Linked DNA regions of Homo sapiens: region 1 is linked to region 2. The links come from fine-mapping of genetic effects on gene expression. A gene starts in region 2. The other region holds a variant in brackets. All regions are shown on one strand. Distances are from middle to middle.

Region 1 (5,367 bases), 29 kb after region 2:
CTCGGCCTCTCAAAGTGCTGGGATTACAGGCCTCAGCCACCACGCCTGGCCCAGAGCAATTTTAAATAAAATCATTTATTTGCTTAGAAAGATGGAGGTAATGAAATATATAAAAATAGTGGAGAAAAACTTAGGGACCCAAATGAATAATTGACATAAAAATACTGATTCCCTTAATCTAGTCTAATAGTTTTCCACATGGGATGATATTGTACTAGACATTTTTGGTTATCATGTCCCAGTGGTGCTACTGGCATCTGGTGGGTAGAGGCCAGGAATGGTGTTAAACGTCCTGCAGTGCACATGACTGTCCCACAGTTAAGACGTCGTGGCCCCAAATGTCAGCAGTACCAAGGCTGAGAAACTCTCCTTTAGTGTATCAGTGGAGGTAACTTCTGAAGTTTAAATTTTTCCTACTGATTTTTTGTTACTGCTAATTGTATCTGTGATAAGAAAACCTAGATTATAAAAATAGTGTATATTTACCTGTACTGCAATATCCTACAGCTTAAATTTTGGTCTTTTTATTCTAGTTGTCCCTGGCAAACCTGGTGAGACTCAACCAAGCCCTTTTTCCCCCAAGCAAGAGGAAAATGGAATCTTTGTATCAGTGTGGTTTTGATGACACTGTTAAGTTTTTACTTAAAGAAAATTGGTTTGAATAAAATGCATAAAAGTTTATAATGCAAAACACGTTTTAGATAGTTTTTGATGGAAGTTTCTAATCAAATCCTTTTTAGAAAATCTATCATGACTCAATTGTATTACTCCTTGTAATATTTGTGTTTATTTTTAATATTTGAATTATTACTTAGCACATGGATATAAGAGGCACTTTATTAGAATTTGACAACGTCATTAAGAAGGATACACTTAGGTGATAAGGAATCATTTTTGGTGAACTGTTGTGTCCTTTAAAAAATGGAGGAGGATAGGTTCTTTGGGTAAATTGAGGAACATGGAAAATGGAGGGCCACCACTTAGGTTCCATGGAGAATATGTGGCATGATCTTGACGTGAAGCATGGGTGTTTCCGTGACTTAGCTGTGTCCCTGTAGCTCTGGAACTGAAGGAACTAGGTAGGAGAGGAAGGATTTGAGAAATAGGCAACTCATGGTTAAAGACCTTTGATCAGGACTGGAGGAACAAAGGTTTGTGTATTAGTCCATTTTCACACTGCTGAGAAAGACATACCCAAGACTGGGCAATTTACAAAAGAAAGGTTTAATGGGCTCACAGTTCCACATGACTGAGGAGGCCTCACAATTGTGGTGGAAGGTGAAAGGCATGTCTCACATGGCAGCAGACAAGAGAAGAAAACTTGTGCAGGGAAACTCCCCTTTATAAAACCATCGGATCTCTTGAGACTCGTTCACTATCATGAGAATAGCATGGGAAAGACCTGCCTCCATGATTCAGTTACCTCCCACTGGGTCCCTCCCACAACGTGTGGCAATTGTGGGAGCTACATACACTTCAAGATGAGATTTGGGTGGGGACACAGCCAAACCATAACAGTTTGCTTTCCACAGGTGTGTGCAGTTGCTCCCAGTGCAGTTAGGGGCAGATATCCAGAAGCCTAGGAGATTTTGAAGAGGCTTATCCCCTCTCATCTTCCTCCCCTAAACCCCACCCCAGTTTAGGAGATTATCAAGCTGGTTGTCATTCATTCTCTCTCTCTCTCTCTCTCTCTCTCTCTCTCTCTCTCTCTCTCTCTCTCTCTCGCCATACCTCTCTGAGTATTTAGCTATTGTTCTATATACTGGATACATCTATTATGGGAACTTAAATAGATAAAATACTACTAAACACAAAGAACCAAGTAGCCTAGTAAATAAGAATTAAATCCAGAATAATCATTCACTTCTCATTTTTAAATCACGTTGTACTGATCCCAGGTTTTTTACTTTCTGAGTAGTTGTCCATCACTTTGAGGACTTGTGTATGGGCTTGTACCAATTTACTGACACTGTCTTAAATCCTAAATCTGTTTTTATGAGGTTTTGCCAAGCAAGAACTCTTGATTACTAAGAGGCAGTTAGAGACAAACCAATTTAATTCCATGTCTTCAATTGTCA[C/T]GCATTTCTTCTTTTACTCTTTGAAACTATTCTTTGAGTCAATTTTATGGTTCTCAGAAGCCAAAATACACAACTTTTAGCACATAAACACCAACGATGGCCTCTTTTTGAGGAGTTATGCATAGACCCACTCTAGAGTAATGATGGTCCCTGTGGTATATACTTTCTCCTACTCTAGCAAACATGTAGTTTAATCTTAATGTGTTGTTTCCATAAGTGACATGAAGTGGATAGATTCTCAATTGTTATGTCCACTTATTCACTAGGTAAATTTTCAGTTTTAATACTTTTCTCCTTACCCCTTCCTTTGATCATTTCATGTGAATATTCTATTTGTATGATACACTGTATTTCAATAAATTCCTTGTTGATGTACCCTTAAATTGAAGAAATTTAAGCTGCAAAACCAAATCTCATTGTATAAGACTTTTTTGAAGTATCTTGTATCGACTACATATGTATTTGACCCTGTGGGAGGATGGTACTTTTCTTTTTAACTTTTATTTTAAGTTCAGGGGTACGTGTACAGGTTTGTTATAGGTAAACTTGTGTCACGGGGGTTTGTTGTAAAGATTAATTTATCACCCAGGTGTTGGTACTTTTCTTTAAAAATACTGTAAGATCATTGACGTATCAGTCTGCAGCAACTTTCCTACATGAGGGGAATACAGCGGTGTAATGAAACACATACTTGGTGCACACTAGGCGCTCTCCGGGGCTGGTGCACCAAATTCTCCTGTGAGCATGCTACCAAGCATGCTCTGCTTACCTTTGCTGGAGTGTGTGCTCATGCAGCCATACTAATTGAAAACAGGCATTCACAACAGGATCTGCCTCACTTGTGGGATCAAAATTTTGAGGCATTGTAGAACTGGCATATAGAAAATCTGAAAGGAGTTTCTGACCCAGATACTGATATGTTTGCAGGGTAATTACTGTGATTGGCAGCTTGATAAATTCCCAATTCCCTGTGGGGGCAATTTCCTTATATATTTGAATCTGTCATTAAAAATGTCATTAGTCTTCCTTTTCTTCTTTTCAATAAGACACTTTACTATGTAACTATGGTAACCCAGTGCTTCCATTGACAATTAGAGAAAATAGGTTTGGTTTTGAAGTTCAATAGTGCTCTAAAGGAACAAGCCATATATTAAAAAGTAAGAAAGAAAAAAAAACTGTTAATTCTGGGTTCTTAATATCAGGTGCAGGGTGTGTATACTAGAAGCTTGCAAAGATACAGTCTCACCACTCTGGGCATTGAATTTTGATTCTAAACAAGCATGAGCACTCAAAATACACAGATATTAGTGATTATGCTTTTAATTTTTTGGAAGATTAAAAAAGATAAATACAATTACATAAAAACATGTTTATAAATATTAGTCGTAGAAAGTTTTTGGATCCAGTCTATTACTTTTACAATTGAGGAGCCTAACTATGGAAGATCAGTGTTTTGGGATTTTTCTTGCCTAAATTTTGTCTACGTGATAGCAAAATAAAATCAGAAGTTGAAGTAATTATCTAAATAAAGTAGGAAGGAAGGCAGTTATTGCAGTTCATGTAAAGTGGACAGATTTTTAGACAGCTATCATGATTCTGATTTGCAAATTGACAGTTTCTTTGGGCAGAATTCACCATTTATTTGCTTAGTTCTGCACTTCAATTTTTTTCTAACTGCACAACTCAAAGCTCTGCTTACTTAATGCTAACACACATGTTTATTTTTCCTCACACATATCCCCTAACTCAGTATAATTTCCCCATTTTGACTGACTTAGAGGGGAGAAATATGATTTAACTTTATTCATACTTTAGAATGCATGTCTGAGTACACAGTCATGTACAAGTCATAATATCACATCCAACTTAATCTTGAAATAAGATAATTTGTGAAAAACATGAATATGAACAAACATACTTGCACATATATATGTATGTACATATACACATACCTAAAACATGTCACAGCAGCTGCATTTTAACTGTGCCGAGATGAAGCAGCATTTATGTAATGCCCGATTTCACTGAGTTTATAAGTGCTCTTTAACCTTTATATAGTCAGATTCACTTTTGTGGACAGACCTAGTAAAGTGCATATGCGTACTCTACTCTTGGAAAGCCCCACAGTTCCAGCCAGTCCAAGAATATCAGCCCTCCCTTGATGGGCTCAATGGCTTTGCAACATGACCTTCCAGCTATGGCCAAGCTCATGGCCCTGCAGGTGGGTCCCTGATTCATAAACTGTCCCTTGCAAGATTGGACTTGGGCCGTGCAAAAGTCTACTGGGCACTTTTGTGGATCCCTCCCTTCACGGAGCTCACCTGAGCAACTAAGAAAACAATCATGTGAGATAATTCAGGCCACACAAGCAATGTGAAAGGGCCAGGAAGCTTGAGGAAGATTTACGGTGGCTGCTTCTCCTTTTGTCCAACAGCGAGATGTGCTGGTGTCTGTTGCTAGCCAAGACAGGGACTTCACTATTACCCCTCACCCACCACTCACCTGGACACCCACCACTCACAAGAGGACCCCCTGGAGGAAAGGCTCAGGATGACACATGTTCAAATCCTGAAGTTACTCCAGGAAGAAGGTAAAATGGTCGAAGGGGTGATCACTGGGCTTATTGACACTGTGGACACATCAACCCCAAAACTTGGTTCCTGGCAAGGTCATGGAACTAGGCAATTTAGCTCTACTGATCAACCTCAGTCAGAACTATCTCTTGACAATTTCAAATCCAAGGGGGTTACTAGCGCCAATCACTCCCAGTGAGGGAAATGATCTGTTCTATTTTGCCATTTCTGGTTCCTCCTCCTACTGGCTGAACAGAATCATGGTAATGGATGATCTTATTGTACTTGTCAAGGGGAGATGGATTTGCTGCCATATGATGGGGATAGGGAGGAATGAGCATGAAATTGGGGTAACCCCTCCGGTTATCCAGTCTACAACCAGCACTAGTGGAATAGTTAGTGGGAAGCCATTGCAACCTTATATGGCAGAAGCAAGGGTACACATCCCTGAGGACCTAAGGTTTGAGTCATGTCACTGGAAAATGGACTCTGATCACCTGACCTGTGCCTGAAAAGGAAGCCACCTGGAATAGAGAATGATTGAGGAAAGTCAATGTCACCTCAGAAACAGTGGCAGCCACAGTGACCTAGGATGGCCAACCTGATGCCAAGTAGCTGAGTTTTAGAAGCCTGTTCTCCTACCAGCTGCCAATAGTAGGAACTGTTCATATCATATCCTTCCAGTACCTGCTCTGTGTGACTTAACACAGCCAGGG
Region 2 (5,337 bases):
TAAGATGCCTGCCGGGCACAGTGGCTCACGCCTGTAATTCCAACACTTTGGGAGGCCGAGGCGGGCAGATCACCTGAGGTCAGAAGTTCGAGACCAGCCTGACCAACATGGAGAAACCCCGTCTCTATTAAAAATACAAAATTAGCAGGGCGTGGTGGCACATGCCTGTAATCCCAGCTACTCGGGAGGCTGAGGCAGGAGAATCGCTTAAACCCGGGAGGCGGAGGTTGCGGTGAGCTGAGATGGCGCCATTGCACTCTAGCCTGGGCAACAAGAGCAAAACTCTGTCTCAAAAAAAAAAAAAAAATGCCAAGACTGGAAAATGAAATAACACCACAAGGAGAGTAGACTGAAAGAACTGATTAGACTCAAAGATTCTGAGATATGGTCCTTTCCCTGGAGCAGAGGTGTGGACAAGCAACACTTACCCATGTCCATTTCTCCTCCCTTATGGGATACAGGATAAAATCTCCTGAGAGGAAGCACTGGAGAGGAAAAGGAGCCATCAAGCTGGGGCATTTTGTTTCTGTGCTGGGTGCTACTGTAGGCACCTCCCGAAGCTAAAGGTTTCCTACTCCGTAGCTGGTGTGCACAACCAGGGCATCTGTGCATGGCTTTGCAATACCACATCATCACGCCTCTGTAATTACACATCAGATGTCTCCCTATCCACTGGACTCTGCATCCCTGATAAGGGCTGAATTCTTTCAACTGTGTATGCCCTGTACCAACGTAACACTTGCTATACAACAGATGATTAATAATTACGTAAATGGCTAAATAAACAAACCCGTTTGAAACTAAATTACTAAGGAAAATAGACGAGCAAAAATAAGCAAATTAATTACAGAAAAAAAAGTTTCAAAGAGCAATTAAATTACTATATATTCAGATCACAATGGTAATTTACATAAATCCAACATCCAAAACAAATATTTATTGATCATATACTATGGGCCAAGTGCTAAGCTTGGCGATGAGATGACAAAGACAAATGTGAATGAATATATCCTTCCTTACATTAGAAAGCTGAACTTTTTTTGTTTTTTGTTTTTTCTTTAGAGATGAGGTCTCACTACATTGCTCTGGCTGAAGATGAACTCCTAGGTTCAAGCAATCCTCCCACCTCAGCTTCCTGAGTGGCTGAGACTACAGGCACATGCCACCTCACCCAGCTGAGAGCTGAACTTTTAACTAGTTACATGGAGATATGATACGGGATTGAAGGGAGTAAGGAGGAAATAAATTTAAAATTTTAAGAGTTAAATTATGGAGCATTTTGCTGCTCCAAAGAGACTTACCTTTGGTGAGCTCTCACTCTGCCAGCCAGGTGTAGAAATAGTGGATGCCCTTATCTTTCCTTTAAGTGAAAGATATCAAAGTTGTGGTGTTCATCCAGGCTGCCCGGTGATAAAGTTTTCACCTGTCTCCTGAATCGACCTGCTGACAGTGTCCAAATGCAGGAAATAACTTGCTCTGTAAACAGCATCCCAGATTCTGGTTCTGTAAATCCAGTCTCTCCTTAAACTTCTGATGCCACCACATCACTTTAAACCAGACCACCTGTCTTAATCCATTCAGGCTGCTATAATAAAGTAGCATTGACTGAGTGTTTATAAAAGAAATTTATTTCTCACAGTTCTGGAAGATGGAAGTCTGAGATCAAGGTGCCAAGATGGTCAGGTTCTGAGGAGGGCCCTTTTCCAGTTTGCAGATTGCCATCTTCTCCGTGTACTTTTATCCTTACATGGTGGAAAGAGACCTCTCTGGGGTCCCTTTTCTAAGAGTACTAATCCCATTCATGAGGGCTTCACCCTCATGACTTAATTACCTCCCAAAGGCCCCACCTCCTAATACTATCACCTTGGGGGTTAGTATTTCAATATGTGAATTTTGGAGGTATACATGCAAACAATAACACCACCAAAGGAGTTAGACCACTGCTTCAGGATTCTGTTAAAACGCAGATGCCGACTCAGATCAGAGATGGGACCTGGGATCCTTCCTTTCTCATGAGCTTCCTGGAAGATGCAGTTCTGGGGAGGATCACACTCGACCTTAAAGAGCTAGAAGATTGTGGAAGGTTTAAGGACTGGAGTGTGTCCTGTATTTTCCTAATGTACGTTGTGCCTTCCCTTCACTAAATTCCGGTAGAGGTAAAGAATTCTGAGTAATGCAGTCATTCTACGATAAGGCAATAAGGTGTTTCAGGATCAATTTTCTCTAAAGAATAGTTATGTGAATTAAAAACATCTTCCCTAATCGTCACATCAAGGACTCACAGGTGTTGTTGGCCAGAGACGATACACCAAAACAGAAAGAAAAAGCCCAAACCAGAGGCAATTTGGAGAGCTCCACCCCTCCTCCCTGTTTTGTCTAAGGTAGAGACATTCTCGCAGACGCTCCTTTGTAGCCTCAGAGAAAGTAAATCTCTGCCCTTAAACTAGGGGACCTGGAGAGCCTTCAATCACGAAGTCAGGGATTCCTCCAGGCTTGGTTATTAGGATTAGATAAGGAAAACACCGTTTGGGGAGAGAAAGAATTATCAGAGTCCTTTAAATCTTGGTGGGCATGGCAGGCATCTTGGCGGTCGTTGAAGCTGCTTAAGTCTGAGCCAAAGGTGCCAGAGGACAAAACAGCCACCTGCTCACGGCCCCCTATGTGGAAAAAGCTTTCCAATTTAGCTCTCTCATTTTAGCATCTCAATCTGCACATAAGGCACGCGGGAAACTCAGAGAGGTTATGCTACCTGCTCAAGGTCACACAGCCTAAGGTCAACTGAGGATATGAAAGTTCCCCAGAGTCATAGTCCAGCTTTTCCTTTAGATAGCACTTCTTAAAAAAACCAAAGGCACGCCTTGAAAAGCTGCGGGATGTCCAGCCCCAAAATAGCCGCTGGAGTTGGCCCCTAGGGGCAGCTGGACCGCCCAGGCGGGCGAAAGGGTGGAGAGGGAGAAGAACCACTTCCGGGAAACAGACGCGAAGAGGGTAAGGCACTTCCGGGGCACAGAAAATGAGGATTATTAAAGGTCAGTTGCTCGCAGGTAAGGGCCAAGTAGCGTTAAAAGACACGTAAGGATTACAACGCCTCTCTAGGGTGTGGGTTAAAATGTCTCTCTAGGTACTCGAAGATAACATGACTCTAAACGAGGAATCCTTGCCTGCGCTGGAGGACGCTCCGGTCTAGCGGCCAGGTTGAGTCCAGAAGTTTAAATAGAGCAGGCGGGGCCTAGCGGGCGCCTTCGTCGGCGCGATGACGTCACATACCTGCGCGGGAGGCGGTACCAACCCCTGCCGCAGGACTTTCCTGGGCCGGCTCGCGGAGAGCGTAGCGCGGCCTTGGTGGCGGAATGGCGTTGAGTGACGGCCCGGCCCCGCCATCTGGTTAAAGGGACTCGTTCAACACGGAAGTGTCCCGGGGCTGCATTGGTACGGAGCCCTGGGGCCCAGCAAGGGTGTGCTCCTGCGGGACTGATGCGGGGACCACCCCGGCCCTGCCGGCCTCCAAGCCGCGGGAGGGCACTGAGCCTGTGCTGGCTGGGCCTGGCCGCCTGGTTGCTACACACCCAACCCCCTTCCCGTCCCCATTTGCAGAAGTGGAATCAAAACTGGGGCTTGACCCCGGATCGATGACTGGGACTCAGCCTACGCGGACGCCAGCGCAGCCTGCGGCGGCCGAGCCACCTGCCCTCACAGGGCCTGGCCGGGTGCATCAGGAACAGGCGGTCTTAGGTCCCTAAATTCGAGGCCCTGTAATGTGCCTCATCTTGGGGTCCCTGAATGGGGCCCTTGGGCCCCCAAGGAAACCCTGAGACCTTCAGAATGGACAGCCTTGTGGAGGCACAATTTCATTCACTTGGGCAAATTGTGCGCACTGAGGCATAGGAAAACATGTAATTTTGTATTTAGATGTGTTCCAAGTATAAAGTGGCGTGGCTGACATTTCATAGAGCCTTAAATTGCCTTCACCAGGCATGACCTCAGTTTGTGTTGAGATACTTGGCAAAGAAATGTATTGCATTGTTGAGTGATTGCTTATTGCGTTACTGAGTAATTGTATTGGCGTTCATAAAAGCATGGGTGCTCACAATAGAAATTGGGAAGGGGAGTAGGGAACTGTATTTGAAATCTTCTGATACACTTACCAAGAACAAATGTATTGTTCATTTGGAATTTGATACGGTCTCTAATAATTTTCTGTTTCATAATGGTAGTGCCGCCCCCACCCGCAAAACGTTTCAAAGGGTCAAGAGAAAAGACCAAATGCCCTTGTCAACTGGAATTTATACGTCTGTTTCCTGCCAAGTAATTAAATCGTAGATTCATAATCTATGTACCGAATAAATGTGGAATGTTTTTGTTTTGTTTTGTTTTAATGTATAAGACTTGGGTCAAGGTGAGGAGGGAAAGAAAGGGTTTCCTTGAAAGATTCTTGTGTTTAATTAGAATTAATTGAAACCACTGTGCTTAAAACAGAGAATGATGTTAGAAGAAAGCCTTGGAACGATGATCAACATAAGACTACACAGTATGTGGGATAAACTATTCCAACTTACAGCATTTTTGTTTTTTGTATTGCCAGTGCTACAGCTAGAATGAAGCACATCAACCTATCATTTGCAGCGTGTGGATTTCTGGGCATTTACCACTTGGGGGCAGCATCTGCACTTTGCAGACATGGCAAAAAACTTGTGAAGGATGTCAAAGCCTTCGCTGGGGCGTCTGCGGGATCGTTGGTTGCTTCTGTTCTGCTAACAGCACCAGAAAAAATAGAGGTAATTAAGTAGTAACTTAGGCTGTGTTCCTCATCAAGAAATTAAGACCCAAAGGCAAACACCAGCATTGACTCTACTAAGTTAACACTGCAGAGAAATAATCGTTTGCTTGGAAACAGAAAGGATTAGGACTTTTCTCTTAAGATGTAATTATTAGGGATCTGTGCTCTGGTTGTGGAAAAGATTATTTTGGGTGATAGTGAAATAAGGAAATAAAATGACTTATATTACTCTTGAGTTTTTATTTATCCTTAAGATTCCAGCTCTGTTCCTTTCAAGCAAAGGATATTTCTTCTTTCTATGATCATGAGAAGAGCATGGGGCCTGTTTTCAAGGCCTTGAACATGTGGGCAACAAGTCTTACCTCACTGCTACTTAGAAATAGATACATAAATTAAAATGTGGGCATGCAGTTTCTATTAAGTGGAATGGTATAGGAATTTAATTCTTTTTTAATTCTCACAGTAAGAGGAAGCTCTGAGTTCCAAGCAATTTATCCAGAAGTAATACAAATAATTATTCATTAAGTACTTTATTTAATGCAATCTATGTTTTAAAATCT

Evidence for each region. PIP is the estimated chance that this variant, and not a neighbour inherited with it, causes the effect.
Region 1: its variant is the best candidate, but not a certain one, in a credible set for the expression of PNPLA4 in whole blood (TOPMed, PIP 0.77).

Annotation. Positions count from the first base shown.
Region 1 is chrX:7,895,984-7,901,350 of GRCh38, reverse strand. PNPLA4 (patatin like domain 4, phospholipase and triacylglycerol lipase) reads left to right here. Exons shown (of 7, transcript NM_004650.3): 7 at 534-3,104. The coding sequence ends at 665. Among named protein-coding and RNA genes, the nearest start is that of PNPLA4, 29 kb to the left of the region's middle. The variant C/T (reference allele first, on the strand shown) is at 2,079.
Region 2 is chrX:7,925,378-7,930,714 of GRCh38, reverse strand. PNPLA4 (patatin like domain 4, phospholipase and triacylglycerol lipase) reads left to right here and starts at 3,302. Exons shown (of 7, transcript NM_004650.3): 1 at 3,302-3,429; 2 at 4,583-4,775. The coding sequence starts at 4,596. It overlaps LOC107985675 (a long non-coding RNA gene), which reads right to left and starts at 3,215. Exons shown (of 5, transcript XR_001755784.2): 1 at 1,302-3,215. RefSeq lists enhancers at 2,695-2,774, 3,115-3,164, 3,185-3,424, 3,655-3,884, 4,547-4,596 and a silencer at 4,573-4,867.